2 separate regions of the Homo sapiens genome follow, and region 2 is linked to region 1. The links come from fine-mapping of genetic effects on gene expression. Tissue or cell type: whole blood. Region 1 holds a variant in brackets; the other region holds the start of a gene. All regions are shown on one strand. Distances are between the middles of the regions.

Region 1 (16,878 bases):
CCAAAATACTATCAACTTAAATACTATCAGTATGGAGTATCAACCTAAATACTATCAGTAACAGGTTAGATTAAGAAAATCTGTCACATATACATTATGGAACACTAGCAGCCATAAAATAAAGAGATTATGTCTCTTGTGGCAACATGGAATGTAGCTGGAGGCTATTATCCTTAGCAAACTAACACAGGAACAGAAAACCAAATATCACATGTTCTCAGTTGTAAGTGGGAACTAAATAAGAACTTAGGAACTCAAAGAGGAAGACAGCAGACACTGGGGTCCATTTGAAGTTAGAGGGTGGGAGGAGGGAAAGAAGGAGAAAAGATAGCTATTGGGTACTGGGCCTAATACCTGGATGATAAAATCATCTGTACAGTGAACCCCTGTGATATATGTTTACTATGTAACGAATCTTCACATGTACCCCCAAACCTGCTGTAAAAGTTCTAGAAAGTTAAACTTTAAAAACTCTTAGGAAAAAGCATATGCAAAAATCTTATAACATTAAATTTGGTGATTGTTTCTTGACTGTTACACCAAAAGCATAGGACACAAAATAAAAAACATATAAATTGGACTTGATTAAAATGTGAAACTTTTCTGATTTTTTTGATAAGAAAAACACTCTGTTGTTCGTGTTTTTTGCTACCAAAAAAAAGAACTCCCACTTCTACTAAAATTTGTACAAAAAGCATGAACAACAGAGTGAAAAGACAACCAGCAAATGGGAGAAAAGATTTGAAAATCATGTATCTGACTAGGTACATAAGGTATAATATAATAAGAAGAATATATAAAGAACTTCTAAGACTCAATAACAAAACAAAACAACAACAGCATTTATAAAAAGGAAGAGGACTTGAATCTATATTGAGTCAATAAGTCTACAGAAAAATGCTCAGCATCACCAGTCATGACATGCACATCAAAACCATAATAAGATACCACATTACATCTATTAAGGTGGCTATATAAAAACCAAAACAACAAAAATGAAAAAGTACTGGCTAGTATGTAGGGGAAGTGGAACCCTGGTGCATGGCTGGTGAGAATATAAAATGGTTTATAGACTGTGACCAATAGTTTGGCAGTTTATCAGAAAGTTCTATATATAATTACCATATGTTTCAGCAGCAGGTGGAACACTTCCATATGTCTCAACTAAAGGTGTATCCAAAATAATTAAACGCAAGGACTTAAGCTGCAACCTGGGCCTCTGGGTCTTAAGCGATTCTCGTCCCTCAGTCTCCCGAATAGCTGGGACTACAAGGATGTATCACCATGCCCAGCTAATTTTTATATTTTTAGTAGAAAGGGGGTTTCACCATGTTGCCCGGGCTGGTCTTGAACTCCTGAGCTTAAGTGATTTGCCCGCCTCAGCCTCCCAAAGTTTTGGGATTACAGGTGTGAGCCACCATGCCTGGCCTCTGTTATTCAATCTAAGAACTGCATGCAGAGATGTGTTCAGCTTTTTAAATTTTATTCACTTATGCACTGATACTTTCACACCAATTTTTATAGCAACATCATTTACAGTACAAAATGTAAAAACAAATCCAGATATCTTCTAAGAGATAAAGAGATAAAGAAAATGTGGTATAGACACCACACAACAGAATATTATTTAGCCTTAAAATCAATGCAATGCTGCCGGGTATGGTGGCTCATGCTTATAATCTCAGAATGTTGGGAAGCAAAGATGAGAGGATCTCTTGAGCCTGACAATTTGAGACCAGCCTGAGCAACATAGCAAAATACCATCTCTACAAATAGTACAAAAATTTGCTGGCCTTGATGGTGTGTGCCTACAGTCCCAGCCACAGGGGAGGTCCATCTGAGTCAGAAGGATCACTTGAGCCTGGGGAGGCTGAGGCAGCAGTGAGTCATGATTGCATTTCTGTGCACTCCAGTCTGGGTGACAAAAGAGAGACTCCATCTCAAAAAAAAAATGCAATGCTGATACATGCTACAACATGGATGCACCTTGAAGACATTATACTATGTAAAATAAGCCAAATACAAAAGGATAAATATGTAATGTCAAATTTTGTGTATAGGGGAATGCTATATGAGGCTGGCTCATTCTGAGCAGGAGCAGATTGTTGGGATGTTAGAATACTAGTGGCTCATTATGTTTACACACCAGATCATGGCTGGCAAAGTCGGAAGGCAAGTGCTGCTGTGGGTACCCATCTACCTCAACTGATTGTTCTGAGCCCTTGAGCTGTTATCTAGTGACTTCCAAGGCTGAAGGTCTGTATAGACATAATTCTATGCCTCACCTGGCGAGCAGAAAGTTGCATGGTGTATAAGGAGCAGCAGTGATGGCCAGAAATAGCTCTGAGGCTTCCATATCTGGCTGCCAGTTACTATCTTTGCAGAGCTCCACACAGGAGATTGGCAAAAACGTATTAATGGGGTAACACTCTGTTTCCTTTGGTGTGGGGCAGAAGCTTGCTGTTGCCAACAAGGGCCAGCATTGAAATGAGGTGAGTGGAAGAACAGAGGGTTCTCCAAACCAGCCCAGAAATGGCTGAGAAAGTCCCCCTGAGCAGACAGAGCCATGACAACTCTAAAGGGCTCTGTCCCATATATTAACACACACACTCTCACACACACACACACACACACACACACACACATATATATGAATACACACACACAGAGACATAGATGTAGATATTTATTCTATTGCTTCTATTTCTCTGAATAAGTCTAATACAACCTGTAACTAGCAAAAGACTGCATACGTTATCAAAAATATACTAACAAGAAAAGTCCAGAATCAGATGGCTTCACTGATGAATTGTTTTAAACATTAAAAGTTGTAACTCCAATTTTTCTCACTCTAACAATTGCAATTAGTCAATGCAATATACCAACTCAATAGAATGAATTTTAGAAAAAAACGTGATCACCTCAAGTGATAGAGAAAAAATTTGAAATAATCCAAAACACTTTTATAAGAGCACCTAGTAAACTAGATATAGACTAAAACTTCCTGAACATAAAAAAGGTACATATAAGAAACTCAAAACTACCGCTACATGCAATGGTGAAAGACTAAAAACTTTCTCCTTAAGATCAGGAACAAGACAAAGATAGTTGTGTTTATCACTTCTGATCAAAATTGTAATACAAATCAGGTCAGAATAATTGAGCAATACAAGAAAAGAAACACTCCAATTGGAAAAGAAATAAGCTTATTTCTACATATAGATGTTATAATTTTATATATATAATTAAAATCCTCAGTAATAATGAAGCTGTTAACATTAATAATCAAATTCTGCAAAGTTGTAGAACAGGGGGTCAATACATACACATTAATGGAATAAAATTAAGAGTCAGGAAAAAAATCCATACATGTAGTTTTTTTTTTTTTTTTTGAGATGGAGTCTCACTCTGTTGCCCAGGCTGGAGTGCAGTGGCCCAATCTTGGCTCACTGCAATCTCCACTTCCTGTGTTGACTCTATTCTCCTGCCTCAACCTCCGGAGTAGCTGGGGCTGCAAGCGCCTGCCACCATGCATGGCTAATTTTTTGTATTTTTGGTATTTTTTGTATTTTGGTTTCATCGTGTTAGCCAGGATGGTCTCGATCTTCTGACCTCTTGATCCGCCCGCCTCAGCTTCCCAAAGTGCTGGGATTACAGGAGTGAGCCACCGCGTCAGTTCCCATTCATGTAATTTTTTTAACATGGACTTGGCAAAGCTGCAGGAGCTATTGGAAATCATTTAGTTCATGTATTTTAGCCCATTTTTTATTTTTTTTTTGAGACAGAGTTTCACTCTTGTTGCCCAGGCTGGAGTCCAATGGCGTGATCTCGGCTCACCGCAATCTCCACCCTCCAGGTTCAACTGATTCTCCTGCCTCAGCCTCCCGAGTAGCTGGGATTACAGGCATGCGCCACCACGCCCGGCTAATTTTGTATTTTTAGTAGAGACAGGGTTTCACCATGTTGGTCAGGCTGGTCTGAACTCCCGATCTCAGGTGGTCTGGCCACCTCGGCCTCCCAAAGTGCTGGGATTACAGGTGTGAGCCACCGTGCCCTGCCAACTCTAACCATTTCTTGAAATTGGGTTGCTTTCTTATGCACCTTGTAAAAGCCTTTCCTTCATGCCCCTCGGGTGGACCACAAATCATGGCTGGGTGCTTTCCATTTCACCAATCACTGTTTGCTCAAATAAAGTGGTTAACGTTTTAACATGGAATCCCCTTTTATTTTTAACAAGAGAGACTGGGGACGCCCCGGGCTGCAGCTCCTCCGACGCACACACCGAGTGGGGGTTCTGCCCTGATGACCCACCTGGCATCCCCGAACAATCTGGGGAATACTCGCACTGTGGGCGCACAGCAGGACGCCACGCAGGGACGGGACCGGAGGGCATGAGGCCGGACACGGGGGTCCCTGCTGCTGGCCCAGCCACCATCTTGCAGGCACAGGGGACTGAGGGCCAAGCTGCGCCAGAGACTTGGAGATGACTGTGGGGAGGCCGGTCCTGCTGGTTTCACAGCCTGCTCTCTTCTCTCGGGGTGCCGAACCCCCTTACTCACCATTTCCCAGCTTCCAGGATGTTCTGGTATCTTAGCTATGCGTCCCCAAGTACCTTCAGATTACAGGGCAAAAGAGATTGTGAGGAAGGCCCCATGGAGCTCCCAACATGGAGAAGGTGGAAGAGTAGAGATGGATCCCAAGTTCTGGCGCCAGGGAGAGAAAAAGTTCCCGCCAAACACTGGAAGCCACGCCCTTCCTTCCTCTCCAACTGCGTGCCTGATTGGGCTGTTCCCACGCCACCGCCACCGATTGCATAAAGCTCCAGGGCCCACCCACTCCCCCCCCACCGCCACTCCCCCTCAGCCTTAGTGCCCTTTTTTAAAAAAAAACTTTAAGTTCTGGGATACATGTGCAGAACGTGCAGGTTTGTTCCATAGGTTTACATGTGCCATGGGGGTTTGCGGCACCTATCTTGAACTCCCGACTTCAGGTGATCCGCCCGCCTCCACATCCTAAAGTGCTGGGATTACAGGCGTGAGCCGCCCTGCCCGGCTGCTGCGCCTATCAACCCGCCATCTAGGTTTTAAGCCTCACATGCATTAGTTATTTCTCCTAACGCTCTCTCTCTCCTTGACCCCCATTCTCTGACAGGCCCCAGTGTGTGATGTTTCCCTCCTTGTGTCTATGTGTTCTCATTGTTCAACTTCCTTTTATGAATGAGAACATGTGGTGTTTGTTTTCCTGTTCCTGTGTTAGTTTGCTGAGGATGATGGTTTCCAGCTTCATTCAAGTCCCTGCAAAAGACATGAACTCATCCTTTTTTATGGCTGCATAATATTCTATGGTGTATATGTGCCTCATTTTCTTTCTCCAGTCTATCACTGATGGGCATTAGGGTTGGTTCCAATTCTTTGCTATTGTAAACAGGGCTGCAATAAACATACGTGTGCATGTGTCTTTATAGTAGAATGATTTATAATGCTTTGAGTATATACCCAGTAATGGGATTGCTGGGTCAAATGATATTTCTGGTTCTAGATCCTTGAGAAATTGTCACACTGTCTTCCACAATGGTTGAACTAATTTACCCTCCCACCAACAGTGTAAAAGCATATCTATTTCTCCACAGCTTCACCAGCATCTGTTGGTTCCTGACTTTTTAATAATTGCCATTCTAACTGGCATGAGATGGTATCTCATTGTGGTTTTGATTTGCATTTCTCTAACGACCAGTGATAATGAGGTTTATGTTTTTTGGTCGCATAAATGTCTTATTTATTTATTTATTTATTTTAATTTTTGAGACTAAGTCTTGCTCTGTTAGCCAGGGTGCAGTGTAGTGGCAGGATCTCGGCTCACTGCAATATCCACTTCCCAGTTTCAAGTGTTTCTCCTGCCTCAGCCTCCCAAGAAGCTGGGATTACAGGGGCACACCAAAAGGCCCAGCTAGTTTTTTGTATTTCTAGTAGAGAAGAGGTTTCACTATGTTGGCCAGGCTGGTCTCATGATCCTCCTGCCTCGACCTCCCAAAATGCTGGGATTACAGGCCTGAGCCACCTCGCCCAGCCAAATGTCTTCTTTTCAGAAAAGTCTGTTCATATCCCTTGTCCACTTTCTGATGGTGTTTGTTTGTTTTTTTTTTTTCTTGTGAATTTGTTTATGTTTGGATATAAGACCTTCGTCAGATGGATAGATTGCAAAAATTTTCTCCCATTCAGTAGGTTGTCTGTTCACTCAGATGATAGCTTCTTTTGCTGTGCAGAAGCTCTTTAGTTTAACTAGATCTCATTTGTCAATTTTGCTTTCTTTGCAACTGCTTTCGGTGTTTTAGTCATGAAGTCTTTGCCCATGCTTCTGTCCTGAATGGTATTGCCTAGGTTTTCTTCTAGGGTTTTTATGTTTTGGGGTTTTACATGTAAGACCTTAATACAGCCAGGGACAGTGGCTCATGCCTGTAATCCAGGCACTTTGGGAGGCTGAGGCAAGCAAATCACAAGGCCAGGAGTTCGAGATCAGCCTGGCCAACATGGTGAAACCCCATCACTACTAAAAATACAAAAAAATTAGCTGGGCGTAGTGGTGGGTGCCTGTAATCTCAGCTACTTAGGAGGCTGAGTCAGGAGAATTGCTAGAAAGGTATTTCTCTTTCTATTTGAAAACGGAGGTTGCAGTGAGCAGAGATCACTCCACTGTACTCCAGCCTGGGCAACAGAGTGAGATTCCATCTTAAAAAAAAAAAAAAAATCACAAAACAAAAAAACTTTTTTTTTTGTTTTTTGTCTTTTTTTTTTTTAATTCTTTAAGTTTTAGGGTACATGTGCACAATGTGCAGGTTAGTTACATATGTATACATGTGCCATGTTGGTGTGCTGCACCCATTAATTCGTCATTTAACATTAGGTATATCTCCTAATGCTATCCTTCCCCCCTCCCCTGACCCCACAACAGGCCCTGGTGTGTGATGATCCCCTTCCTGTGTCCATGTGTTCTCATTGTTCAATTCCCACCTATGAATGAGAACATGCAGTGTTTGGTTTTTCATCTTTGCGATAGTTTGCTGAGAATGATGGCTTCCAGCTTCATCCATGTTCCTACAAAGGACATGAACTCATCATTTTTTATGGCTGCATAGTATTCCATGGTGTATATGTGCCACATTTTCTTAATCCAGTCTATCATTGATGGACATTTGGGTTGGTTCCAAGTCTTTGCTATTGTGAATAGTGCTGCAATAAACATACGTTTGCATGTGTCTTTATAGCAGCATGATTTATAATCCTTTGGGTATATACCCAGTAATGGGATGGCTGGGTCAAATGGTATCTCCAGTTCTAGATCCCTGAGGAATCGCCACACTGACTTCCACAATGGTTGAACCAGTTTACAGTCCCACCAACAGTGTAAAAGTGTTCCTATTTCTCCACATCCTCTCCAGCACCTGTTTCCTGACTTTTTAATGATCGCCATTCTAATTGATGTGAGATGATATCTCATTGTGGTTTTGATTTGCATTTCTCTGATGGCCAGTGATGATGAGCATTTTTTCATGTGTCTTTTGGCTGCATAAATGTCTTCTTTTGAGAAGTGTCTGTTCATATCCTTTGCCCAATTTTTGATGGGGTTGTTTGTTTTTTTCTTGTAAATTTGTTGGAGTTGATTGTAGATTCTGGATATTAGCCCTTTGTCAGATGAGTAGATTGCAAAAATTTTCTCCCATTCTGTAGGTTGCCTGTTCACTCTGATGGTAGTTTCTTTTGCTGTGCAGAAGCTCTTTAGTTTAATTAGATCCCATTTGTCAAGTTTGGCTTTTGTTGCCATTGCTTTT[G/A]GTGTTTTAGACATGAAGTCCTTGCCCATGCCTATGTCCTGAATGATATTGCCTAGGTTTTCTTCTAGGGTTTTTATGGTTTCAGGTCTAACATTTAAGTCTTTAATCCATCTTGAATTAATTTTTGTATAAAGTGTAAGGAAGTGATCCAGTTTCAGCTTTCTACATATGGCTAGCCAGTTTTCCCAGCACCATTTATTAAATAGGGAATCCTTTCCCCATTGCTTGTTTTTGTCAGGTTTGTCAAAGATCAGATAGTTGTAGATATGCAGCATTATTTCTGAGGGCTCTGTTGTGTTCCATTGGTCTATATCTCTGTTTTGGTACCAGTACCATGCTGTTTTGGTGACTGTAGCCTTGTAGTATAGTTTGAAGTCAGGTAGCATGATGCCTCCAGCTTTGTTCTTTTGGTTTAGGATTGACTTGGCAATGTTGGTTCTTTTTTGGTTCCATATGAACTTTAAAGTAGTTTTTTCCAATTCTGTGAAGAAAGTCATTGGTAGCTTGATGGGGATGGCATTAAATCTATAAATTACCTTGGGCAGTATGGCCATTTTCACGATATTGATTTTTCCTACCCACAAGCATGGAATGTACTTCCATTTGTTTGTATCCTCTTTTATTTCCTTGAGCAGTGGTTTGTGGTTCTCCTTGAAGAGGTCCTTCACATCCCTTGTAAGTTGGATTCCTAGGTATTTTATTCTCTTTGAGGCAATTGTGAATGGGAGTTCATGCATGATTTGGCTCTCTATTTGTCTGTTATTGGTGTTTAAGAATGCTTGTGATTTTTGCACATTGATTGTGTATCCTGAGACTTTGCTGAAGTTGCCTATCAGCTTAAGGAGATTTTGGGCTGTGACGATGGGGTTTTCTAGATGTATAATCATGTCATCTGCAAACAGGGACAATTTGATTTCCTCTTTTCCTTATTGAATACCCTTTATTTCCTTCTCCTGCCTGATTGCCCCGGCCAGAACTTCCAACACTATGTTGAATAAGAGTGGTGAGAGAGGGCATCCCTGTCTTGTGCCAGTTTTCAAAGGGAATGCTTCCAGTTTTTGCCCATTCAGTATGATATTGGCTGTGGGTTTGTCATAGATAGCTCTTATTATTTTGAAATACATCCCATCAATACCTAATTTATTGAGAGTTTTTAGCATGAAGTGCTGTTGAAATTTGTCAAAGGACTTTTCTGCATCTATTGAGATAATCATGTGGTTTTTCTCGTTGGTTCTGTTTATATGCTGGATTACGTTTACTGATTTGCCTATGTTGAACCAGCCTTGCATCCCAGGGATGAAGCCCACTTGATCATGGTTGATAAGCTTTTTGATATGCTGCTGGATTCAGTTTGCCTGTATTTTATTGAGGATTTTGCATCAATGTTCATCAAGGATATTGGTCTAAAATTGTCTTTTTCTGTTGTGTCTCTGCCAGGCTTTGGTATCAGGATGATGCTGACCTCATAAAATAGTTAGGGAGGATTCCCTCTTTTTCTACTGATTGGAATAGTTTCAGAGGGAATGGTATCAGCTCCCCCTTGTACCTCTGGTAGAATTCAGCTGTGAATCAATCTGGTCCTGGACTTTCTTTGGTTGGTAAGCTATTAATTATTGCTTCAATTTCAGAGCCATTATTGGTCTATTCAGAGATTCAACTTCTTCCTGGTTTAGTCTTGGGAGGGTGTATGTGTCAAGGACTTTATCCATTTCTACTGGATTTTTTACTTTATTTGTGTAGAGGTGTTTATAGTATTCTCTGATGGTAGTTTGTATTTCTGTGGGATCAGTGGTGATATCCCCTTTACCATTTTTTATTGCGTCTATTTGATTCTTCTCTCTTTTCTTCTTTATTAATCTTGCTAGCGGCCTATCAATTTTGTTGATCTTTTCAAAAAATCAGCTGCTGGATTCATTGATTTTTTGAAGGGTATTTTGTGCCTCTATTTCCTTCAGTTCTGCTCTGATCTTCATTATTTCTTGCCTTCTGCTAGCTTTTGAATGTGTTTGCTCTTGCTTCTCTAGTTCTTTTAATTGTGATGTTAGGGTGTCAATTTTAGATCTTTCCTGCTTTCTCTTGTGGGCATTTAGTGCTATAAATTTCCCTCTACACACTGCTTTGAATGCATCCCAGAGATTCTAGTATGTTGTGTCTTTGTTCTCATTGGTTTCAGAGAACATCTTTATTTCTGCCTTGATTTTGTTATGCACCCAGTAGTAATTCAGGAGCAGGTTGTTCAGTTTCCATGTAGTTGAGAGGTTTTGAGTGCGATTCTTAATCCTGAGTTCTAGTTTGATTGCACTGTGGTCTGAGAGTTAGTTTGTTATAATTTCTGTTCTTTTACATTTGCTGAGGAGAGCTTTACTTCCAAGTATGTGGTCAATTTTGGATTAGGTGTGGTGTGGTGCTGAAAAAAATGTATATTCTGTTGATTTGGGGTGGAGAGTTCTGTAGATGTCTATTAGGTCCACTTGGTGCAGAGCTGAGTTCAATTCCTGGGTATCCTTGTTGACTTTCTGTCTCATTGATCTTTCTAATGTTGACAGTGGGGTGTTAAAGTCTCCCATTATTAATGTGTGGGAGTCTAAGTCTCTTTGTAGGTCACTCAGGACTTGCTTTATGAATCTGGGTGCTCCTGTGTTGGGTGCATATATATTTAGGATAGTTAGCTCTTCTTGTTGAATTGATCCATTTATCATTATGTAATGGCCTTCTGTGTCTCTTTTGAGCTTTGTTGGTTTAAAGTCTGTTTTATCAGAGACTAGGATTGCAACCCCTGCCTTTTTCTGTTTTCCATTTGCTTGGTAGACCTTCCTCCATCCCTTTATTTTGAGCCTATGTGTGTCTCTGCATGTGAGCTGGGTTTCCTGAATACAGCACACTGATGGGTCTTGACTCTTTATCAAATTTGCTAGTCTGTGTCTTTTAATTGGAGCATTTAGCCCTTTTACATTCAAGGTTAATATTGTTATGTGTGAATTTTATCCTGTCATTATGATGTTAGCTGGTTATTTTGCCCTTTAGTTGGTGCAGTTTCTTCCTAGCCTTGATCGTCTTTACAATTTGGCATGTTTTTGCAGTGGCTGGTACCAGTTGTTTCTTTCCATGTTTATTGCTTCCTTCAGGAGCTCTTTTAGGGCAGGCCCGGTGGTGACAAAAGCTCTCAGCATTTGCTTGTCTGTAAAGTATTTTATTTCTCCTTCACTTATGAAGCTTAGTTTGGCTGGATATGAAATTCTAGGTTGAAAATTATTTTCTTTAAGAATGTTGACTATTGGTCCTCACTCTCTTCTGGCTTGTAGAGTTTCTGCCGAGGGATCTGCTGTTAATCTAATGGGCTTCCCTTTGTGGGTAACCCGACCTTTCTCTCTGGCTGCCCTTAACATTTTTTCCTTCATTTCAACTTTGGAGAATCTGACAATTATGTGTCTTGGAGTTGCTCTTCTTGTGGCGTATCTTTGTGGCATTCTCTGTATTTCCTGAATTTGAAAGTTGCCCTGCCTTGGTAGATTGGGGAAGTTCTGGATAATATCCTGCAGAGTGTTTTCCAACTTGGTTCCATTCTCCCTGTCATTTTCAGGTACACCAATCAGATGTAGATTTGGTCTTTTCACATAGTCCCATATTTCTTGGATGCTTTGTTCATTTCCTTTTATTCTTTTTCCTCTAAACTTCTCTTCTCACTTCATTTCATTCATTTCATCTTCCATCACTGATACCCTTTCTTCCAGTTGATTGAATTGGCTACTGAGGCTTGTGCATTCATCATGTAGTTCTTGTGCCATGGTTTTCAGCTCCATCAGGCCCTTTAAGGACTTCTCTGCTTTGGTTATTCTAGTTAGCCATTCATCTGATTTTTTTTCAAGGTTTTTAACTTCTTTGCCATGGGTTCGAACTTCCTCCTTTAGCTCACAGTAGTTTGATCGTCTGAAGCCTTCTTCTCTCAACTCGTCAAAGTCATTCTCCAACCAGCTTTGTTCCATTGCTGGTGAGGAGCTGTGTTCCTTTGGAGGAGGAGAGGTGCTCAGATTTTTAGAGTTTCCAGTTTTTCTGCTCTGTTTTTTCCCCATCTTTGTGGTTTTATCTGCCTTTGTTCTTTGACGATGGTGACGTACAGAGGGGGTTTTTGTGTGGATGTCCTTTCTTTTTGTTAGTTTTCCTTCTAACAGTCAGGACCCTCAGCTGCAGGTCTGTTGGAGTTTGCTGGAGGTCCACTGCAGACCCTGTTTGCCTGGGAGTCAGCAGCAGAGGCTGCAGAACAGTGGATATTGGTGAGCAGCAAATGTTGCTGCCTGATTGTTCCTCTGGAAGTTTTGTTTCAGAGGAGTACCCGGCCGTGTGAAGTGTCAGTCTGCCCCTACTGTGGATTGCCTCCCTGTTAGGCTACTTGGGGGTCAGGGACCCACTTGAGGGGGCATTGTGTCCATTCTCAGATCTCAAGCTGTGTGCTGGAAGAACCACTACTCTCTTCAAAGCTGTCAGACAGGTACATTTAAGTCTGCAGAGGTTTCTGCTGCCTTTTGTTTGGCTATGCCCTGCCCCCAGAGGTAGAGTCTACAGAGGCAGTCAGGCCTTCTTGAGCTGCAGTGGGCTCCACCCAGTTCAAGCTTCCTGGCCGCTTTGTTTACCTACTCAAGCCTCGGCAATGGCGGGTGCCCCTCCCTAGCCTCACTGCCACCTTGCAGTTTGATCTCAGATTGCTGTGCTAGCGAGGAGAGAGGCTCCGTGGGCATAGGACCTTCCGTGCTAGGCACGGGATATAATCTCCTCGTGTGCCATTTGCTAAGACCATTGGAAAAGCACAGTATTAGGGTGGGAGTGACCCGATTTTCCAGGTGCCATATGTCACCCCTTTCTTTGACTAGGAAAGGGAATTCCCTGACCCCTTGTGCTTCCCGGGTGAGGTGATGCCTTGCCCTGCTTTGGCTCATGCTTGGTGCTCTGCACCCACTGTCCTGTACCCACTGTCTGACACTCCCCAGTGAGATGAACCTGGTACCTCAGTTGGAAATGAAGAAATCACCCGTCTTTTGCATCACTCATGCTGGGAGCTGTAGACTGGAGCTGTTCCTATTTGGCCATCTTGGCTCCACCAAACAAAAAAACTTTAATCCATCTTGAGTTAATATTTGTATAAGATGTAAGGAAGGTCTCCAGTTTCTGTTTTCTGCATAAAGCTAGCCAGTTTTTTCAGCACCATTGTTAAACAGGGATTTTTTTCCCCATTGCTTGTTTTGGTCAGGTTTATTGAAGATCAGATGGTTGTAGATGTGTAGTGTTATTTCTGAGGTGTCTGTTCTGTTTCATTGGTCTATATCTCTGTTGTGGTACCAGTACCATGTGTTTTGGTTGCTATAACCTTTTAATATAGTTTGAAGTCGGGTAGCATGATGCCACAAGCCTTGTTATTTTTGCTTAGGTTTGTCTTGGGTGAACAGGCAAATGGGCTCAAATAGTGGGATCACATGCCCAGAGTATCACAGCTAATTAAGAAGCGAACTTAGACTTGAAATGCACTTGTTCTTTCCCTTACCTGAGTCTGTTTTATAATGCATCTTAGCACCTATTTAAAGGTAGGAAGTAGAACAATTTGGACACCTTTTCCACAACTTTTTAAGCATTTTAATCATGCAGGAAAGACCCTTATCCCATCCTTGAGCTCCTCTCTCATGATGCTGCACCCCATTGCTGACCATATCGTGGGGTGGCCATTAGGAATCAGGTGGGAAGTTGGTTTGGGAATAAATAAGCGAGAATTATGTTGCCCAAATTTGCTCATCTAAGAAAGTCTCCTCAACCATTCTGTGTGAAGAGGTTTTTCCAGGGTAGTTTTGCCCTGACTGTGCTGCATCTCAGTCTGACTTTTCTTTTTGAAAATCACTGTATTACTCTTATTAACGGGGGTAATTCTCTTTCTATTTGAAAACAGCCAACTGTCCTCTGCAGGTGTCTTGATTTGATTTGCTAGTTCAGATTCTGAAGGTAGCGGTGAGAAAATATTTGGGCCACATTTGAATACCTCATTTTCAGCTGGAGGATATATAAAAATTTCTTAACAATATCTAACTGTTTTCTCAATAACCATTATATTTAACTGTGATGGCTTGGAGGGCAGGGCTGGACACAGATGACACAATCTTTGAAGTTTAATTTGGTTGTAAGTTTCTTTTCGTTTCATTTTGCTTTGTTTTTGGATACAAGGTCTTGCTCTGGTGCCCAGGCTGGAGGGCAGTGGTGCAATCATAACTCATAATTTGCTTATAACAGTTCTTTAAAAAATATTTTTGGCTGAGTTTGGTAGCTCCCATCTGTAATCTAAACACTTTGGGAGGCCAAAGTGGAATGATCGCTTGATCCCAGAAGTTCAAGACCAGTCTGGGCAACATAAGTAGGCTCAGTCTCTAGAAAAAGATTTAAAAATTGTCTGGGCATAGCATTGCTTGCCTGTAGTCCTAGCTACTTGAGAGGCTGAGGTGAAAACATCACTTAAGCCTGAGAGTTTGAGGCTGCAGTGACCCATGACTCAGCCACTGCACTGCAGCCTGGGTGACAGAGACCTGTATGTGTATGTACGAGTGTGTGTTTGTGTGTATATATATATATTTCATATATATAGTTATATATATATATGTTCATATATATATGAACAATATGTATGTTAAAAATATGTATGTTAAAAAAATTCAAGCACGGGAGAAAAGTGAAAGCCCTTGGTGGGGGATGTGGAGAAAGGCGAGTATGGCTCCAGCAACTCAGTGAGACTTGGTTTTCCATCCTGAAGAATTGCCCATCCACACTGAAACCATAGCCTAGCACATGCCAGTTCTCACACTACACCTGCTGGGATACCACTGTGTACCCTTTTTTATAAAACAAAATCTTTCATCTAAGAGAAGGAGAGGAGAAAAGGAGGGTTTCACATTCAAAGCCTTCATTTTTTAATGAAACAACAGCCACTTGTCATTTCAGTTGTCCAAAAGTGACTGACAGCACTAATACACTTAAGGAATCAACCAAAGAAAATAGGCCTCTCAGGTGAGGAGGAGGCACAATGGTAACTAAACCCAATCCATTCTCAGCTTAGCATGATGCCCACATCTCAAGAAGTGGTGTTGGCCATGTGAACCGTGTTCACTGGACAAGGCCAGGGGAAAGGAATTTCTAAGACATACAGCACCCTCTAAACACTCCAAAAGACATTCAGCTATACGTGTGGCTGAGGACCTGCCTGCTATGCAGAGGGATGACTGAGCAGCAGCCACCAGCTGTAAAAGCTTTAAACTCCTCCTCTCATAGGGACTGGCCACCCGCACACACCCCGCCTCACTTCCTAGGTTCTGGCCATCAGGTGCACCTGGGGGACTGCCTTCCTCCCATCTCATTAGCTCTCCAAGAGTGTCCAGCTCACTCTAAAACCTACCCTAGGATGAGAAGTTGTAGATTCTCCTCCATTCTCCCAGAGCAGTGTGACTTCTGAAGAGTACTGCCCAATCTTCTTACCTCAACTGATGTGACAAGGGCTGGTGCCCGGGCAGTTAGATGTCCAGTGACATAACAGGCTCAGCATGCCCAGGGCCTAGCCCCACAGCCTGGCATCTCTCCCCCACCTAGCCTTCATGCCGGCGTTTTCTCTTCTGTCACCAGTGTCAGGTGATGTTCATCTGTGCCACACTCATGAGCCTGGTAAGCGAGAGGTGGGTAAACTCCAACTGAGTGCCTGTGACTCCACCCTCTTACCTCCCACTCAAGTGACATTATAAGCATAATTTTACATTTGATCTAATTTATGCATATTGTTCTTTTCATAACATTTCTAACAACAGCCCTCACAACCAAATGAGTCTGGGTTACAGAACACACAGGCGAGGCTGGGGTAGCAGGTTTCACTTACTTTATTTCAATGTGAAATGAAAATGTGATGGTTTAAAAACAAGAAAAAGTTATTGATCAACTGTGGGGTTGCTACACTTGCTACCTCATACTCACTTCCTTTGAAACAGGGTATCTGGACAGACCATATTCATAAGTAGAGCTTTGCAAAATCCCAGTCAGACACAGCTCCCTCAGGCTCACAGGGCAGCAACTTCCTCCGCCATGTTGGGCTTTGCCAGCAGGAAAGGGAAGGAGCACAGACAGGGGGTGACAAGGAGCAGCCTGGGGCCTTAGGGATCCCCAAACTCCCCAGAGCTGGTCTCTGTAGAAGGGGCTGCGTGGCAAGGACCAGGTAGGGAGCTGGGCTCCACAGAGAGGTGACAATCACTCCTGTATCTCTAAATTTCCCCCAGGTTCCATGATCCAGCCCTGCTTTCCCCCAGGCCCTTCACCCACCCTATCCCCACTGTGTATTAGGCAGCTCGGGTCAAAATGGGAGAATAATACATTCAGATTGTAGCCTCTGGGTATTCCCATCTGGCATGCAGGGAGTAGGGAGGCAAGTCAGGGCCTGTGGTGGTGCCTCTTGCTGTGCCTGAGAGCAGACAGGCCAGGGTTGGCCACTTGGACGTCTGCATGACCACCACTGCTGACTCCCTCCCTCTCAATCAGAGCTACAACCAGGCCAGGCCTATCATGATTAACAAAACCACTGCAGCTGCCATCCTGTCACAAAACTAATGTGCACCCAATGCCAGCCCTACACAGATCTCTGGCTTCCTATTCCAGGACACAGAAAAGCCTCTTATCTTTTCTACTTAAAATCCAGATTTTAAGCCAGATTGGTCCTGGGGATAGTGGCAGCAAAAGCAGCAGCCAGATGTATACATTCCAGGTGTATACACTCATGGGCTTGGGCACGTTCCACACTTGCTGGAGGATGAGAGGCCTGAGAGGCACCTGTTTCCCAGCTGCTAACTGATGTCCACATACTCCATTCATGTGTCTTCATTTAGGCCTCTGCATCAAATATTGATGAGCCATTGCAAACATATCTTTTGGGAGGCATCGTTAATTTCAGCACCAGACCCCACTTGTTCTGGAGGCAGTCAGGAGCTATCTGGTCAGCTCCTAATCTCCCAGGACAAAGGTGCTATCTTTTTGCCAGCACTCACATCCAG
Region 2 (16,878 bases), 810 kb before region 1:
AGTGCAAGGGACAATCAATGAGTGAGACAGATGGACCCCTATGCCCTTGAGGCTCAATGACTAGCAGGAGAAATAGGTATTAAGCAAATTGTCAAACAATGCTTATTCTAACTATGATAGTTAAAAGTTATTGCTTATTTTGGGCATTTAGGAAGGTGTCTGTAGACGCAAAATATTTTCGACTTCATACTCCTTTTATAAGAATGTATTTTTTCTTGTATTCTTTTGAAAAGTTTCAGAATTCTTTATGCCTGCCCTTTCTGATTCATTCTTGCAAATGGATTTCTTTCAGCAGTCTTGAAAAATCAAACTCTCTGAATTAGCAAATTTAGTGAAAAGCTACTTAGAAGACATTTTTGATAAATTTAGAGGTTGAAAATATTTATAAAAAATAAGTCTTGTTCTGTACTTAATAATCATGAAAAAATATCCCTGTAAAATTCTTATGGACAGGCCCCTTTCAAAGACATCTGGATTTCAAGGAGTAAAGGCTTTATTCTAGGAAGTCTCTCAATGTTAGCTGGGTATCATTGAGTAATTATATTCAAATAAATGTCTACAACTCTAGAAGAAACATACTGCTATTTTCTTTATTAGATAAAGGAATCCTCAGATTTCATATATGTCTCTTCTCTATGCATTAAGTTGTCCTGCTAGATTCATTGTTTAAAAAGCAATGCAAATGAGAGTATTTATTGAACACTTCCATGAGGAAATGACATTTTAGGTAGGCCATGAGGACTGAATAGGAGTTGGCCAAGTAAGACAGAATTAAAAAGAAGTACAGTTTAAAAGCTTTGAGAAGGAGAGGGGCAAAGTAAGTTAGAATAGTTCAAGGAAGGCTGTGTGGCTGAACTGTAGTGAATGTAGATGCCTCTTAGTCATATAAGCTACATAAGTAATTTTAAATTATTACTTGGGAGATAGGTGACACTTGGAATGCTCCTCTGGGAAGCTTACGTAAGAAAATAGAGCCAGAGGGTTTAAACCATCACCACCAAATTATGGTCATCACTATAATCAGCATCACTACTCTCATTTTAAGTGTTAAGTGCTAAATGAATTACATACATTTTCTCTAATTTTCACTAACTGTATATCACACATAATGGTATCATTTAACAGGTAAGAATACTGAGACTCAGAAGTACCTGAAAAGACTTTGTTGAGGTAGTGACATCTGATTTGGAGCCAAATATGTAAGTGTTAGCGAAAGAGGAAGGCAGAGAGGAGTATTACAGACAAGGAGAGTGGTATGAACAATTTAGGAAGGATTTTGTCAAGATCAGATTAATGTTTTATAAAGTGCATTCTAGCCATGGAATGAAGAGAAGATTGGAGGAGGGGACTGGAAACAGGGAGACAAGGTAGGAGAGTGCTGCATTCACCGGGGTGAAAGATGACCATAGACTAAACTAATGTCTACCATTAATGGAGTGGATGAGAGAATGTGAAAGTTGAGGAGATTTAAGAAATATTTAGGAAGTAGAATAGGTTGTCAGCACAATCCAATAGAACTTTAGAGAGTAGGCTGGGAGTGGTGGCTCACGCCTGTAATCCCAGCACTTTGTGAGGCCGAGGTGGGCGGGTCACCTGAGAACACGAGTTTGAGACCAGCCTGGCCAACATGGTGTAGCCCCATCTCAACTAAAATACAAAAATTAGCCGAGCATGGTGGCATGCACCTGTAATCCTAGGTACTCAGGAGGCTGAGGCAGGAGAATTGCTTGAGCCTGGGAGGTGGAGGTTGCAGTGAGGTGAGATCATGCCACTGCACTCCAGCCTGGGTGACAGAGTGAGACTCCATCTCCCAAAAAAAAAAAAAAAAAAAAAGAACTTCAGAGAGTAAAGGAAATTGTCTATCAATAGGGTAGCCCATAGCCAAGTGTGGATATTGAGCACTTGAAATGTATTAGGTTGGTGCACAAGTAATTGCAGTTTTTGCCATTACTTTTAATTGCAAAAACTGCAATTATTTTTGCACCCACCTAATTGTGCAACTGAAGAACTGCATTTTAAATTTTATTAAATAGCAATTAATTTAAATAGCCACTTGTGACTCATGGCTACTCTACTACAGTTCAGAATTGTATAATTTTAGATTGCTGAAAGTTTTACATATCCTCACTTTAATTACAAGATCTTTTAAGATAACTTTGTGCTGTCTATCCAAATTTGCACACTTCTTTGGTGAGTTTGGTTGTCTTTCTACTGTGCAAACATATGTAGTACTTAATTTTACTTCTATATTTACTTATATTGTAACCCTTTTCTATATTGGTCAGTTGTCTTTTTTTACCTGTTGGAAAGTGTCAAGTCCCATTTTTCCAGGAAAGTTTTAATAGCTTGTCTTTCTCATTAATATGCCTTCCCTTGAGCATCAATTACATTAGTCTATATCACATTATCTCATGACAAATCATTGCTTACCTCTTGCTCTTTCATATTCTTTATTGGTGCAATGAATTGAAGCTGGGTCTCACACTAAACTCTAAGATGCTTGGAAGGAGGGAAGATATCCTTCATGTCTTCTATATTTCTTCCTCCACCCCCACTGTTCAGCCTATAGTTGGCATAACAGCAATTCTTAAAGACAAATACTTGCTCACTACTCTGAGCCTACTCATTACAATGTATGCTACGAGATTTCTGGTTCCTTAAGTGTATTTGTTCTTTTCAATTAGAAAAAGTCTAAACTAGTGAAAAAAAAATATGAATGTCTTTTTTTTTTTTAAAGTGGGGGATACATGCTATTTTAGCCTCTATTGACTATTTTAAGTAGGTAGTCCCCAAGGATGCCTGCCATCAATTCCTTCCCTCATAATACGTGCATGCTGCTCTACCCTGTAAGTCAAGTCAGCCACCCCGCTCCCTCCAACTCCTTACAGTGGCCTTGAGACTTGCTTTGACAATTAGAAATCAGTGACACTGTGCCAATTCTGGGCCGAGGCTTTCGGAGACCTGGCAGCTTCCACTTTGGCTCTGGGAAAGCCAGCCACTGTGTTGTGGAGAAGCTCAGGAGAGACTCGAGAAGGAGGAGAAACCACAGAGCAGCTACTTGGGGGAAAGGCACTGAGCTGCCAGACATGGGAATGAAGCCTTGTTGGATTTTCCAGTCTGGCCAGCCTCTAGCTGAATGCAGCCATATGTATGACCCAAACTGATGCTACATGGAGCAGAACTGCCTGGCCAAGCCGTGCCCTAATTTCTGACCCAAAGAATCATGAAAAAGAGTAAAATCATGTTGTTTTGCATGACTAAATGCTGGAGGGCTAGTTATGCAACAATAGATAGCTGAAGTATTATCATTAAAAATAATAGAAGATTCAGTTATAGTAAAATAACTAACCTCCGTTTGGTCACCTTCCTGATCTACACTCTCTCTTAACTCTTGCAAGTTTATGGCCTCCCTTTACTGAATAGCCAGTGGGTGGAGCCAGTTGACTCTGTGATAATGGAAAACAAATATCCAAACCAACCCAAGACCTTCAAAACATCATGTGAAATAAATTATATGCTTAAATATGAAGTGTGAAATTCTGAAATTGAAAAGATTTTGCATTCTATGTGCTCTCTTAAGTGTAAAATTTACTTTGGAAACATTTACTTGAGACTAGGTTTACCTAAATAATCATACATGGTCCCTTAGAAAAGTGTTACTTGATTAAAATATTGGATTTACTGTCCCTAGACACTTATTCATGACAGATCTTAACTCTGTTATTATTTGTAGTATTTTAAAGTTGATTTTAAAAGTGATAGTCTTCCGACTGTCTTAGCTATTAGCAAGGTGGTAATTTATGAGGTTGGTGAGACACTGATCTTACTTGGTCACGAAGGTAACTTTAAGCAAACAGCATTAGTGATATTAACAATTTGAATGTTTGAAATGATTGAATTGTTTACATACTTGATCCACTTTGTACGGTTTAAAACCAGGTGGTTATTTGATCCAGAGAGAAGGCAGGTACTCAGAAAACATGTTTTGGCCACTCATCACAATGTCTTCCCTCATCTGTCACTCCCTAAAATTAAACAACTAGCCCATTTTTGCTGTGATATAAGTTTATTTTATTTTAAGCTGTGTCTTCATAGAGCAGGTCAACTAGCTAAAGTAATTATAAAGCTATCCACAGAGGTTAGAGAACTATGTATTTTCTTCAATTCCTGAGGGTATTTTAAAGGTGAGCATAGGGCAATGCTGGTATTTCTGACTTATCTTTGGCTAGGATAGTTGTTGGAGCCAATAGCGCAAATGTTCCATGATGAAGCTATACCCTGAAGAAATGCTCAGTCCAATTTGTTTTGGATTATGTGTGAGCTGATACATCACTTGCCAGGCAAGGTAAATATATTTTATCCTTATATTATAAGCATACACTGTTTCAGGGACATTCTTCAAAAAGTATGTTCCCTTCTTTCTGTTTTGTTGCTCTCATTGGAGACTCAACAGTGTTTTTTTTTTTGTTTGTTTTTGTTTTCTTGTTTGTTTGGTCTTTCTCTTCATGTGTTTTTCTCATTAGCCTCTCCTTAACCAAGCTATTTTGTAAATAAGTCCTTCTGAAAATAATGGTTAATAATCATTGAATTTACAAATTGAAGTCTTCTCTAATCTTGTGAAATAATAAAATCTCAGAAATGAAAAGAACTCCGTGATTCACAATAACCAAGATATGGCATTAATGTAGGTGCCCATCAACAGTGGATTGGATAAGGAAAATGTAGTACATATGCACCATCAAAATACTAGACAGCCATAAAAACGAACAAAATCATGTTCTTTGTAACACAGATGCAGCTGGAGGCCATTATTCTAAGAAAATTAATTCAGGAACAGAAAACCAAATACTGCACATTCTTACTTATATGTGAGAACTAAACTTTGGGTGCTCATGGACATAAAGATGGCAACAACAGACACTGGGGACTGATAGAGGGGGATGGGAAGGATGGAGGCAAACTTTGGGGAACTGTGCTCACTATCTGGGTGACAGGATAATTTGCATCCCAAACCTCAACATTATACAATCTATCTATTTAACAAACCTGCACATGTACGTCAGAGATCTAAAAGTTGAAACTATTTAAAAAACAGAGCTCGATGACTCAGTCAGTATAATCTTTACCCAATAATGTATCTCCTTGCTAACTTTTACTTGGTCTATAAGTGCCAGAAGGAGCTTTAGCTCTTAGATCTAGTACAGTGCCTAGTGCATAGCAGACATTGAATTAATGTCTGCTAAATCACTGATTCAGTGAATGATGGTTTATTACGTTATAGTAAATGTAACTTATCTTTGATTTTTAGCATATTCCAAGGGCTTTATGTTATTAATTTAAATGAATTTTAATAAATATAAACTTTTTATTATAAAATCTCCAAAATAAAAGTTTAGACATGTCATAATTTATATTTATATTATTAAAATTTATTTTTAAAAATTATATTCCTTTCTGTATTGTGCTAACTATAGCAACAGAATTTGAGTATACTTTCAAAGTTTTATCATTTAAAGCTTACTTCACTATGATGAATTTATAAGCACAGAACTTGAAAGAGTCAGCAAAATGGAAATAATAAATGTTATCGATATGTATTACTTTTCTTAGGGCTGCTGTAACAAATTACTGCAAGCCGAATTGCTTAAAACAACAGAAATTTATTCTTTCACAATTTTGAGGGTCAGAAGTCTAAAATCAAGGTGTTCCAGGGTCAGGCTCCTTCCAAGGTCTCTAAGAAAAACCTTTCCTGGCCTCTTCCAGCTTCCTGTGGTTACTGATAATACTTGATATTCTTTGCCTTTGGTGGTACAACTTCAGTCTCTGCCTCTATCTCCACATGGCCTTGTTCTCGGTCTGTATTTTTCCAAGTCTCTCTCTCCTTAAGCACACCACTCCACTGCTGACATATATTAAGGAAGACCTAAATAAATGGAAAGATATATAATGTTCATAGATCAGAAGATAAATTTGGATCAGATGTCAATTATTCTCTGATTTGTCCATAGAATCAATGCAACCCCAATGAAAATCTCAACAAGACTTTTTGTGGACCTTGTCTAGCTGATTCTAAAATTTATATGAAAATGAGAAGGATTAAAAATGAAAAAACAATTTTGAAGAGGATCAAAGTTGGAAAATTTATACTACCTGACTTTAAGAGTTATTTTAAAGCTATAGTAATCAAGACTCTGTGGCATTGGCTTAAAGAAAGACAAATAGGTAAATGGAATAGGATAGAGTCTAAAAAATGGACTCATAGATATATGTTAATTTTTGGCAAAGGATGCAAAGATTTTTCAATGAAAAAGGGTAGTATTTTCAACAAATGGTGCTAGCAAAATCTGATGACAATGTGTAAAAATGAGAACTTTGATTAGAAAAACCAAAATAAATTATAGAGATAAACGTAAAACCTAAAACTAAAATTTTAGGGGAAAGTATAGAAGATGATAATTTTTGTGATCTCACATTAGACAAATATTTCTTAGTTTTGACATCAATATTATGATTTATAATAGATAACGTTGAAGAACTAGATTCATCAAAATTAGAAACTTCTTCTCTTTGATAGACAGGAGAATGAAAACACAAGCCACAGACTGTCAGAAAATATTTTGTAAACCACATGCGATAAAGGTCTTGGATACAGAATAAAGAATTCTCAAAACTCAGAAATAAGAAAACCAACAACATAATAAAAAAATAAGTAAAATATATGAAGACACTTCACCAAAGAAGATACGTATACACATAGCAAAAAGACATAGGAAAATACGTTCAACATCATTTGTCATGAAGCCACATGAGATATTACTACACATCTGTTAGATAAGCTAAAATTTAAAAGACCATCATAAATGTTGGCAAGGATGTGTGCAACCAGATCTCTTATATACTGTTGTGGTAAAGAAAAGTAGTAAAACTCTTTTGAAAAAAAAGTTTAATAGTTTCTTTTTCTTTTTGAGACAGAGTCTCGCTCTGTCCCTAGGCTGGAGTGCAGTGGCGCGATCAATCTCCACTCACTGAAACCTCTGCCTCAGGGGTTCAAGAGATTCTCCTGCCTCAGCCTCCGGAGTAGCTGGGACTATAGGCGCACACCACCATGCCCGGCTAATTTTTGTATTTTTGGTAGAGACAGGGTTTCACCACGTTAGCCAGGATGGTCTCGATCTCTTGACCTCATGATCCGCCCACCTCACCCTCCCAAAGCGCTGGGATTACAGGCATGAGCCACCGCACCTGGCCTTAATAGTTTCTTAAAAAGTTAAACATACACATTCCATATGATCCAGCTGTTCCACTCCTAGGTACTTACCCAGAAGTAATGAAAACATACGTCCACAGAAAGAGTTGTACATATATGTTCATATCAGTTTCATTTGTAATTGCCCAAAGTTCGAACAACCAAAGTGTCCATCATCAGGTGAATGGACAATTTATAGCGCATATATACAATGAAATAAATTAAAAATTTATTTCATTAAATAAATGAAATTTATTAATTTAAAATAAATTAAAAATTTATTTCTTTGTATATATGAATAAATATTTAAAAAGTAGAATGAACTATTGATGCTAACATAGATGAATCTCAAAAGAACTTTGCTTAGTGGAAGAAGCCAGACCAAAAATACTACCTGCTTTATGATTCCACATACATAATTTTTAAAAATGCAAACTCTTCTATAGTGACATAAAGATCAGTGGTTGCTTAGAGGGTTGTTTCAGTGATGAAAGGAGGTACTGATTACGACGTAAGAAAACTTTTGGGTGATGGAATGATTCATTATTTTGATTTTGGTGATGGCTTCACAGGGAGATACATGAGTCAACATTTATCGAATGATGGATGCACTTTAAGTGCAGTTCATTATATATGTTATACCTCACTGAAGTGGAAACAAATTGGATGTAAGTATCCCACATGTTGACTACTAAAGTTCTCAAGTTTCATCTCTTCAGTAGGCTTCTGTAAAGTAAAATTCTGGTGAGCTTAAAAAAAAACCTAGATCTCTATGCCAAATTAACTTTGAGCAGCATAATAGAAATGCCTGGGGTTTTAGGGCATTTCCAAATCGCAGTAAACTACAGTTTAATTTGTAATAGGACAAGAGGAAGGAAAAAAAAAGAAGAAAAAGCGGTGGGTGGGGAAATCAGGAAAGGAAAGCAAGAAGAAACAGGGGAAGTACACTCGGCAGGGGAATCGGCAAGACTGCACCTACACACTCTCACCCGCCTCTATAGATTCTCTAGGCAGGAGGCTGCAAGTGGATTAAAATGTTACAACGCAAGGCAAGTCCTCCACCGCAAAAACTGCTCCTCCCAGACTTAGCCCAACCAGCTGGAAACTCCGTGCTTGGAGCGTTAAATCGGACGGACACCCGCCCCCTCTCCACCCTCTGCCTTCCAGCTGCGCCGCATCCTGTTCTCCGTCGCCGCCTGGTGGCGAGCTCCCGGGACCCGCAGGCGCTCGGGTGAGGCAGGAGGGAAGGCGCGGGGAACAAAGGTCCCTGCAGTGGAGGGGCGCCTCGTCTACCTCCGGATGCTTTTGCCACGACTCCGTCTTGGCACCAGTCTTGCTGCCCTGGAATGCAGTTTCCCAAACGCAGCGCTCACTCTGACTCCTCTCTGCTTTTATCCGTCAGGTCTCAGTTCTTGCGGGTGGGAGTCGGCTGAAGGAGCTGCGTTATATGGTTGTGACATCACCCTCCCCGGCCCCCATTTTCAGGTCAGAACTTTCATGCCTTTGGAAACGAGGGACCCAGAAGAGCCCTTACTGTAGGAGGAATGTCGCCGTTAGACCTCTAAGCTCCGAAGAACCAAGGGGAGACAGAATCCAGATTGCTTCCTTAAATCCCAAGTAGTATTGTTTTTTCCACCTTAGAGTCCGCCCCCCCGCCCCCACTTGTCCCATATATTGATCGGCCACTTTGCCACCGTGTTCCAAGGTTGGAGAGCGTCACAATGCCCCACCGTCCCCAACTCTCAAGTGGCCGACAGTGGGCAGTCCAGAAGCTGGGACCAGACTCATCTGCCCGAGGGCACAGTAGGAGGGACGGAGGGATCTCCCAAGAGCTCCGAGGGCGAGGTGAGAACCAATTGTGGGGAGGGGGACCTTATAACGGGGCAGTTAGGAACGGGCAGAGGTGCCCCCACCTCCAGCTTTCAACTCAGGCGAGGAAACTTCGAGACCTTCCCGTCCACACCTGATTGACAGAAGGAAGCTGTCGCGGCCCAGGAGGCGAGTGTGGGTGTGCAGAGGTGGAGACAAAACCTAAAAGCACGCAGAGCCGGCGAGGGCTTGCGGTCCTGGACGGTAGGGGTCTGCGTCTGGTGCCACCTTCTCCATCAGGCTGCTTGCTGGGTCCACCAAGCCTGACCCCTCCAGCCAGGAGGGGATCACGGAGTGTGTCCCCCGCCCGGGCTGCTGCCTGCCGGAAGGGGGCTGGGAAACCGGGATCCCCGCGCGCCACTTGCCTGGCAGCGTCAGTTTCACCCAGGACTGGCTAGCGGTTCCCTCGTGGCTCTGCGCGGAGGTCCGCCTCCTCCCTTCCCTCCCCCATCCCGCGCGCTGCCTCCGCCTCCTTCTTCTGCCTCCACCCTCAACCCCCATCCCCGCCTGACGGGAGCTAGCCCTCAGTCCGCCCGAGCTGTGGTTGTGGGCGCCGGACAAGTCCAAGGCGCCTCCTCCCAATATGGACAGCCGCTACAACAGCACTGCGGGCATCGGGGACTTGAACCAGCTGAGCGCTGCCATCCCGGCCACGCGGGTGGAGGTGTCCGTGTCCTGCAGGTGAGGACGCAGCCCTTCCCCTCTCTCCTGCCCTCTCATCTGTGGGGTTGGTAGCACTTGGAGAGCGCTCGGGGTACCACGAGGCTTTGCGCAGGCAAGAAGTTGCGCCATGAGTGGGAAATATCTCAGTAGTGGGGCTGGAGTTACCCCGGGTCAGGTGACACAGGGGAGCGGGAATTAGAAGCGGTGGGCTCCGGGACTGAGACTTTGTATTTTCTTTCTGGGAAACGCTGTAAAAGTTGGCTGGGCTGTGACTCAGCTGTGGGAACACCGGCCGCCGCCCACTTTACAAGCCGGTTTTCCGCCCCAAACCCGGGCTGGATGGTTGGGTGATGACCGGAATCGAAGGGGACAGCACTGCCAAAAGCTCTTGTGACCGCTGCACGCTTAGGCCCGGGACTTCCTCTGCTAGGCGTGTGCAAACCTGCTGTTGCTAGGGTTGGCTCCAACCCCGGCAGCTTCCTCCCCACCCACTTCCTGGAGCCTTCCAGCTTGCTTCTCCCCGACCCTTCCGGGCTTTTTGCCTTTTGCCTGATAGGTAGAGATTTCGGCCCTCCTTGCAGACGAATCTATGCCTTACCTAAGATCTGGGAAGTCACGACTTTTGTTTTGATTTGTTTTCGGGCCCACATCTGAGTGCTTGTAAAAACTGACTCTCGGCCGGGCGCAGTGGCTCAGTACAGTTTATACGCCTGTATTCCCAGCACTTTGGGAGGCCAAGGCGGGTGGATCACGAGGTCAGGAGTTCGAGACCAGCCTGGCCAATATGGTGAAACTCCGTCTCTACTAAAAATGCAAAAATTAGCCGGACGTGGTGGCACGCGCCTGTAGTCCCAGCTACTCGGGAGACTGAGACAGGAGAATCGCTTGAACCCGGGATGTGGATGTTGCAATGAGCTGAGATCTTGCCATTGCACTCCAGCCTGGGCGACAGCGCAAGACTCCATCTCAAAAAAAAAAAAAAAACAAAAAAAAACTGACTTTCAACCCTGTCCAGAGACTGTAAATTGCAAACTCGTTGTCCTGACCTTTCGGTTAGTTGCCCTGTAAATAAAGCAGCATCACCGCTATATCATAGATGATTTTGAGAAGGAGATGAGCGATGGTGCTAAATTGGTACTGGCCACTAATTTGCGAATTAATATTGACCCTGGAGCCCACTCCCTTGTTTGCATAATTGGGTCTGTCTCACTGGAAAACTGGCTCCTCATTTATCCATTTTTGCCCTAAGATTGTTTTTATGCCCTCACATCCTCCCTTTCCTTTCCTTAGCAAACTTGCCTTGAAGATATCTAACAAATTTGGGTGATCTTGATGTAAATAAGTTTAAAATTCCATCAATCTTGACTTTGCATTTTCACAAACTGAGCCTAAAGCCAAAGGAATTCTTTTCTGGGGGTGAAAATTCGAGCACCAGCAACCGTAGTAGAAGTATTATTTGAGGGTAGGGGACAGCCTTTATCTAGCCCTGAAACTATATCACCTGATTGTTTGCCGCCTCTTAAGACTGATCTGGGACTATGGAAATAATCATGCTGATAATGATAGCTATCATTAAGCTCTTGCCTCATTGCTGTCACTGCTTTAAGTGCTGCCTGAGATTTTTCTGTCAATGGAACAGGTGAAGCTGTTTGGAAAACTCTTTAGAGGATTCCTAGGCCTTTTTCTTTTCTCTGAAGCTTGCTTTCGATGTTAGAGGGAAGTTACTGGTATATACAGATAATGGATAGCCGGAAGTCCTACAATAACAGCATTACTAGAGTTCTTATCCTCTGCTCAACAGTCTGCAAAGTCTGAATGGCATGTGGCCTATACTTGGAATGAATATAAAAGAATATTGTCAATCAAGTCTGAATTTTTCCATGAGCTTTTTAAGGGAAATTATACCTAAACTGGTCATTCTGCCAGTAGGGCCCATGTTTAATGCAGCCCCTTTTTTGATGCATGTTTTCTGTGAGTGTGCTGGGCATACTGAAGTCAATTGGCTTAAGGCAATTTGTTTCAGTTTGCTGCCTCAGAACCTGCAAATCCCTTGTTCCAGCTTTTTTTCATAACATTGCTTTGACATTTTGTTTTTAATTTTTAAGATTTCTAACAGGAAAAAAAAATCCTGAAAGAGAACCTGAATACTTAGTGTCAAGCATCTCTGCCAGGGGCACTAGTGCTTAGTCTATTGTTTGAGTTGCTTCTGACTCAGCTTACTATTTACGATAAGTTTGAGGTAAAAAGCATCTTTTGGGCAAAGAGAAACATAATTAAATACCCAAGTTAGTGCCTTTGGAATAGGTTTGGGAATAGTTCCTGAAAAGGTGGGTTAAATTTATTTTTAATACATTAAAATTCAAAGATAAAAATATTTGAGTATTGTTGGATCTTGTAACCATAGGAGGTGGTTTAGTTTGGGCTTTGGCATCAGAGACCTAAGTACAAATTCTGGCTTTGTGACTTGTTCTTGCTACCTTGGAGTAAGTTCTTATTCAGTCTGTCTAAGCATTCTCATCTCCAAAAATAAGAATAGTTATGGTATTTACCTTATATAGAGTGTTATCAAGGTGATGTGTGAAAGCGCTTACACAATGCATGAAACAAAAACATGTTTTCAAAAATGTTAGCTATTATTATAATACTGGAAATAACATTTGTTGAATAAATGTGTTATATATGATTCAGGTATGGAATTCTGTAAAAGTCCTTCTCTTTTGAACTTCAATAAGTTGGTTAAAGAACACAAGGATAGAACCAGCATTGGGATACCTGTTCCCGCTTTCTCTATCTTCTTTGATGTGCATCAAGAACATGTTTTGTAGAAAGGTTGTGGGGATTTCACTTAGCAACAAAGCACAGTTGAAGGCCTCTGAGCCTTGCTATGGGCAGGCAGAGTAAGGAATTCCCTTGCCTTACTATACCAGAGACTTCTGAGGATTTGCCCACACTTCAAAAGCAGCTCAGATTTGAATAGGTTCTTTCTTTCTCATTCTTTATCTTTCTTTCTCTCTCTCCTTTCTTTCTTTCTTTCTTTTTCTTTCTTTCTTTCTTTCTTTCTCTTTCTTTCTTTTCTTTCTTTCTTTCTTTCTTTCTTTCTTTCTTTCTTTCTTTCTTTCTTTCTTTCTTTCTTTCTTTCCTTCCTTCCTTCCTTCCTTTCCTTCCTTCCTTCTTTCTTTTCTTTTTCTTTCTTTCTTTTTTCTTTCTTTCTTTCTTTCTTTCCTTCTTTCTCTTTCTCTTTCTTTCTTTCTTTTCTCTTTCTCTTTTCTTTTTTCTCTTTCCTTTCCTTTTCTTTTCTTCATTTCCTTTCTTTCACCTCCTTTCACTGTCCCCTATCATTAAAAGCTTTATGACAAAGTTTTTATCTTCATTTTGGGGAAGGTGAAAAAGATAAACGATTGAAGCTTGAATATAATTCATGGAAATAATTTAGTCTGTTTATTCATCAAGTGTCTGAGTGCCTTTTATATGTCTATGTTTATGCTAGGGTCCATGAGAAATGCAAAAGAAGTTCTCTGAAAATGTAAAATCTGATTGAGAGATAAACACTACATAAGACACGGTAACGGGGCTAAATTCAAAGATGAGGCTCATGCATGAGGAGGGAAAGGATCATTGTGGAATAGGGTGCTTGGAGTATATTACAAAGGGGAGAGATGGGGCTTGGGCAGAGACAAGCTGGATAGGCATGGTTTGGATTAGAGAAGGGACAGTGGTTAAATTTATAGCCACTTAAATTTGTGTTAAGGGGGTGAGAGGTACCCTTTTCTAGATGTATTTATGCAAAGGCAAGCTCCTGCTATTTGACCTCCTTCGTCTTCTACCCATTGTCTAGCTCTTCTTGCATTCATTTTCTTTTATTGTATAAATTTGTAGATTTTTAAATTAATTAGCTTACTTAATTAACTAAAAATGCCTGTAGCTGAAATGATACAACCTTGAGAGATAAACTAAGGTAATATTTCCATTTTATTCTGAAAGCTTATTACTATAGAATGAGGTAAACCCACTGGGAAAAATAATATGCAGTAATCACCTGTTTTCCTTGGGTCCTTGATTTTGTTGCACTATTTCACTGATTTTCATCATTTTCTCTGATTGAGAAGTCAGCTTATCAATAATAAAAGCAGTGAGAATATTGTGTATTTCTAGACTTTGCATGTTAGGTATCAAATGTACATCCTGTCACAGAAATAATCCTATAATGGTGATAATACTGACTATTTATTTATTTGAGATGGAATCTCACTCTGTGGCCCAGGCTGGAGTGCAGTGGTGCGATCTCTGCTCACTGCAACCTCCACCTCCCAGGTTCAAGCAATTATCCTTCCTCAGCCTCTCGAGTAGCTGAGATTACAGGTGCCTACCACCACGCCCAGCTAATTTTTGTATTTTTAGTAGAGATGGGATTTCACCATGTTGGCCAGCTGGTCTGGAACTCTTGACCTCAAGTGATCTGCCTACTTTGGCTTCCCAAAGTGCTGGGATTATAGGCCTGAGCCACTGCCCCCCTGGCCAATACTGACTTTAAACATTAAAGTGGAAGGAAGACTATGAAGTGGAAAAGGGTTGAGTGCCTACGTGGTGCTAGGCATTCTAAAAAGCCCTTCCTGACCTGGTGTAAGTCTATTGCCTCATCTCCCATCACTCCTTGCATGAACCCAGCAACTGTATATAGTCTGATAAACAGATGTGTGCCATAGCCCAAAATGCATGCCCGAGAAATACGGCTAAAAAATACTTATAAAAGGTACAGTCCCAAAGTGTGAGCGTTCATCCTAGACAACCAAACTCCTCATGCTTTTGTGGCTACACAGGTGCTGCTCTTTGCCCTGCCCTACCTCCCTTCCCCTTCTTTTCTGGATTAGGCTGTGCTCCTAAACTGGATTAGTCCCAAAGTAGCTGAGGTGTGCCAGTGTCATAGGTATATTACCACTCTTAGTCTTTCTATTCTCCTTGAGGACAAGTTTTGTCTCTTTCATGTCCATGTACTATATTCTGAGCTTGGCACAGAATATGTAGTTAGTAAATGTTTGATGCTGCAGTTCTATAGCCAAATTGTCTAATGTGGGAAGAGGGATTTCTCCTGTTAAAATATCATTCCTAGGTCCCATAGCAGATCTATTGAATCAAAATCTCTGGGGATGGGACCCAGGAATCTGAGCTTTTAACAAGTTCAAGCTGTGCTGGTTATACACACTAATTATTTTCATCTCTTGGTTTCATGAGTAAGTGACTCTAACTCTAGTCCCTTGATCTGAGTTAGTAAAACCCACCCTACTAGGGTGTTAGGAAGATACTTTTTGATGGTGTGCTGGAGCTTAAATGGGTTTGGGAACAGAAATTTGTAAGTCAGTTGTTAAAGTGACTATTAAAAATTGAATTATATAAACAAAATTAAATTATATTAAAAATAAATTTAAGAAATGCTGAAAGGTTATAACTTCCTAATTGCTTTACTACATGTTACTGTCATCTGTTTTTTTTTATAATCATCTATTCTCTATTTTTTAAATCTGTGTGTTGAAAGTATTCTGCAGTGCTGTGCTTCTGTTCTCTTCCCAATTCATGTGTGCCACCTTGGCAGCTTGAAATAAGCCATAGTGGGAATATTTACACCATGGGAATTGGCAAACACTGCAAATCAGTGTTTGACTTACCCTTTTGTCATCTGTATTTAAGAAATCATTCTGTGGGAATCAGTTGACTCTATGGAGTTTATAATAAAAGTACTATGTGCAACTTATTATTTGTAGATTGTGTGCCAAGCTACATACTCTACACATCAGTAAAAAATAACAAATTTTGTACACACAAACGTTCAGCTTTTTATTGAAGAGGTTGTTTTAAAATATATACTTGCACATCACTGTTTATGGACTTTTGGAAAAGGTAAAGCCTTATATAAAAGAAAATTATTGTTGTTTGTCTGGTTCAGTTCTGGCTATTATAATAAAGTACCAGAGACAAGGTGGCTTATTAACATCATACATTTATTTCTCACAGTTGTAGAGGATGGATGTCTGCGATCAGGGTGCCAACATAGTCAGGTTCTGATGTGAGCTTTTTTTTCAGGTTACAGGCTGCCAGCTTCTCACTGTACTTTCACATGGCCTACAGAGAGTGAGAGAGCTCTCTGGGGTTCCTTTTATCAGGACAGTATTCCCATTCATAAGGGCAGGCACCATCATCATGACCTAATCATCTCCCAAAGGCCCTACCTCCTAATATCATCACATTAGGGGTTAGGATTTCAACACATGAATTTTGGGGGGACGCAAACATTCAGTTCATAACACTCTTGTTAGACTGTCACTATTAGAAGTGGTAGTGTCAAGTTCAGCACTATCTCTGGTCTTCCTTCTCTACTGGAATAAGTGGGGTTGTATGATTTTATAATCCATAAAAGTTGTGATAGCAGGTATATTGCAGTTAGGAACTTAGAGACTTTTAAATTTCTCCCTCTCCTTTTCATGTGGTTCTCTCTACACTTTTATTCTTCTCTTACTTTGAAGTTGTATTTTTCTTTCCCTCTTTCTCCATCCACTGGTGGCATATCCTTTGCAAGTTTACATGTTACAAGTCCAGCTACACTTAGTGATTAACTGACCATCTGCGAAAGCAAAGTTAGATTCCAAGAGAGAGTGTCTGACCCTTTTTGGAGTTGGCTGTCTGAGGTAGATACCTGTGCTGTTCTAATGATCTGCGGTGAAAGGAATCAAAGCATTCAAACACAACAGTTGGAGGCTCTACCTTAGTCCACATTGGTTCATCTCTTAGCATACTTTACCTTTCTTTAGTCAGACAAAAAATTTGGAGATACTATGTAAATAGATTTTCAAGTGATGTTGTTAGTTGATAAATTAAGTTATATAAGCTAGGGATATTAGACTGCCTGTTGTGCTGTTAATGAGCCATATGACAGGTAAACAGAGGGTAAAGTTGTTGTAGACCGTAACATCCTATTCTGTCTCTGCAGCTCTTGAGATCCTGTGGTTCAAGATTGTAGTCACCCTGTAGTGCCTTTTTTGATCATATTTAGGTTTGTCTTAGCCCCAGAGTTTCAGTAAAATTTGTCCTGGGAACTTTCTGAACTGTGG

The links. PIP is the estimated chance that this variant, and not a neighbour inherited with it, causes the effect.
Region 2: CPNE8 starts here. The variant in region 1 is fine-mapped to the expression of CPNE8 in whole blood (TOPMed, PIP above 0.99).

What each region holds. Positions count from the first base shown.
Region 1 is chr12:38,087,377-38,104,254 of GRCh38, reverse strand. No RefSeq gene overlaps it. Among named protein-coding and RNA genes, the nearest start is that of ALG10B, 220 kb to the left of the region's middle. RefSeq lists an enhancer at 4,694-4,988. The variant G/A (reference allele first, on the strand shown) is at 7,826.
Region 2 is chr12:38,898,355-38,915,232 of GRCh38, reverse strand. It overlaps CPNE8 (copine 8), which reads left to right and starts at 9,642. Exons shown (of 20, transcript NM_153634.3): 1 at 9,642-9,796. The coding sequence starts at 9,699. CPNE8-AS1 (CPNE8 antisense RNA 1) reads right to left here and starts at 9,521. Exons shown (of 2, transcript XR_007063275.1): 1 at 8,236-9,521; 2 at 5,641-5,923. RefSeq lists an enhancer at 8,098-8,357 and a silencer at 9,488-9,657.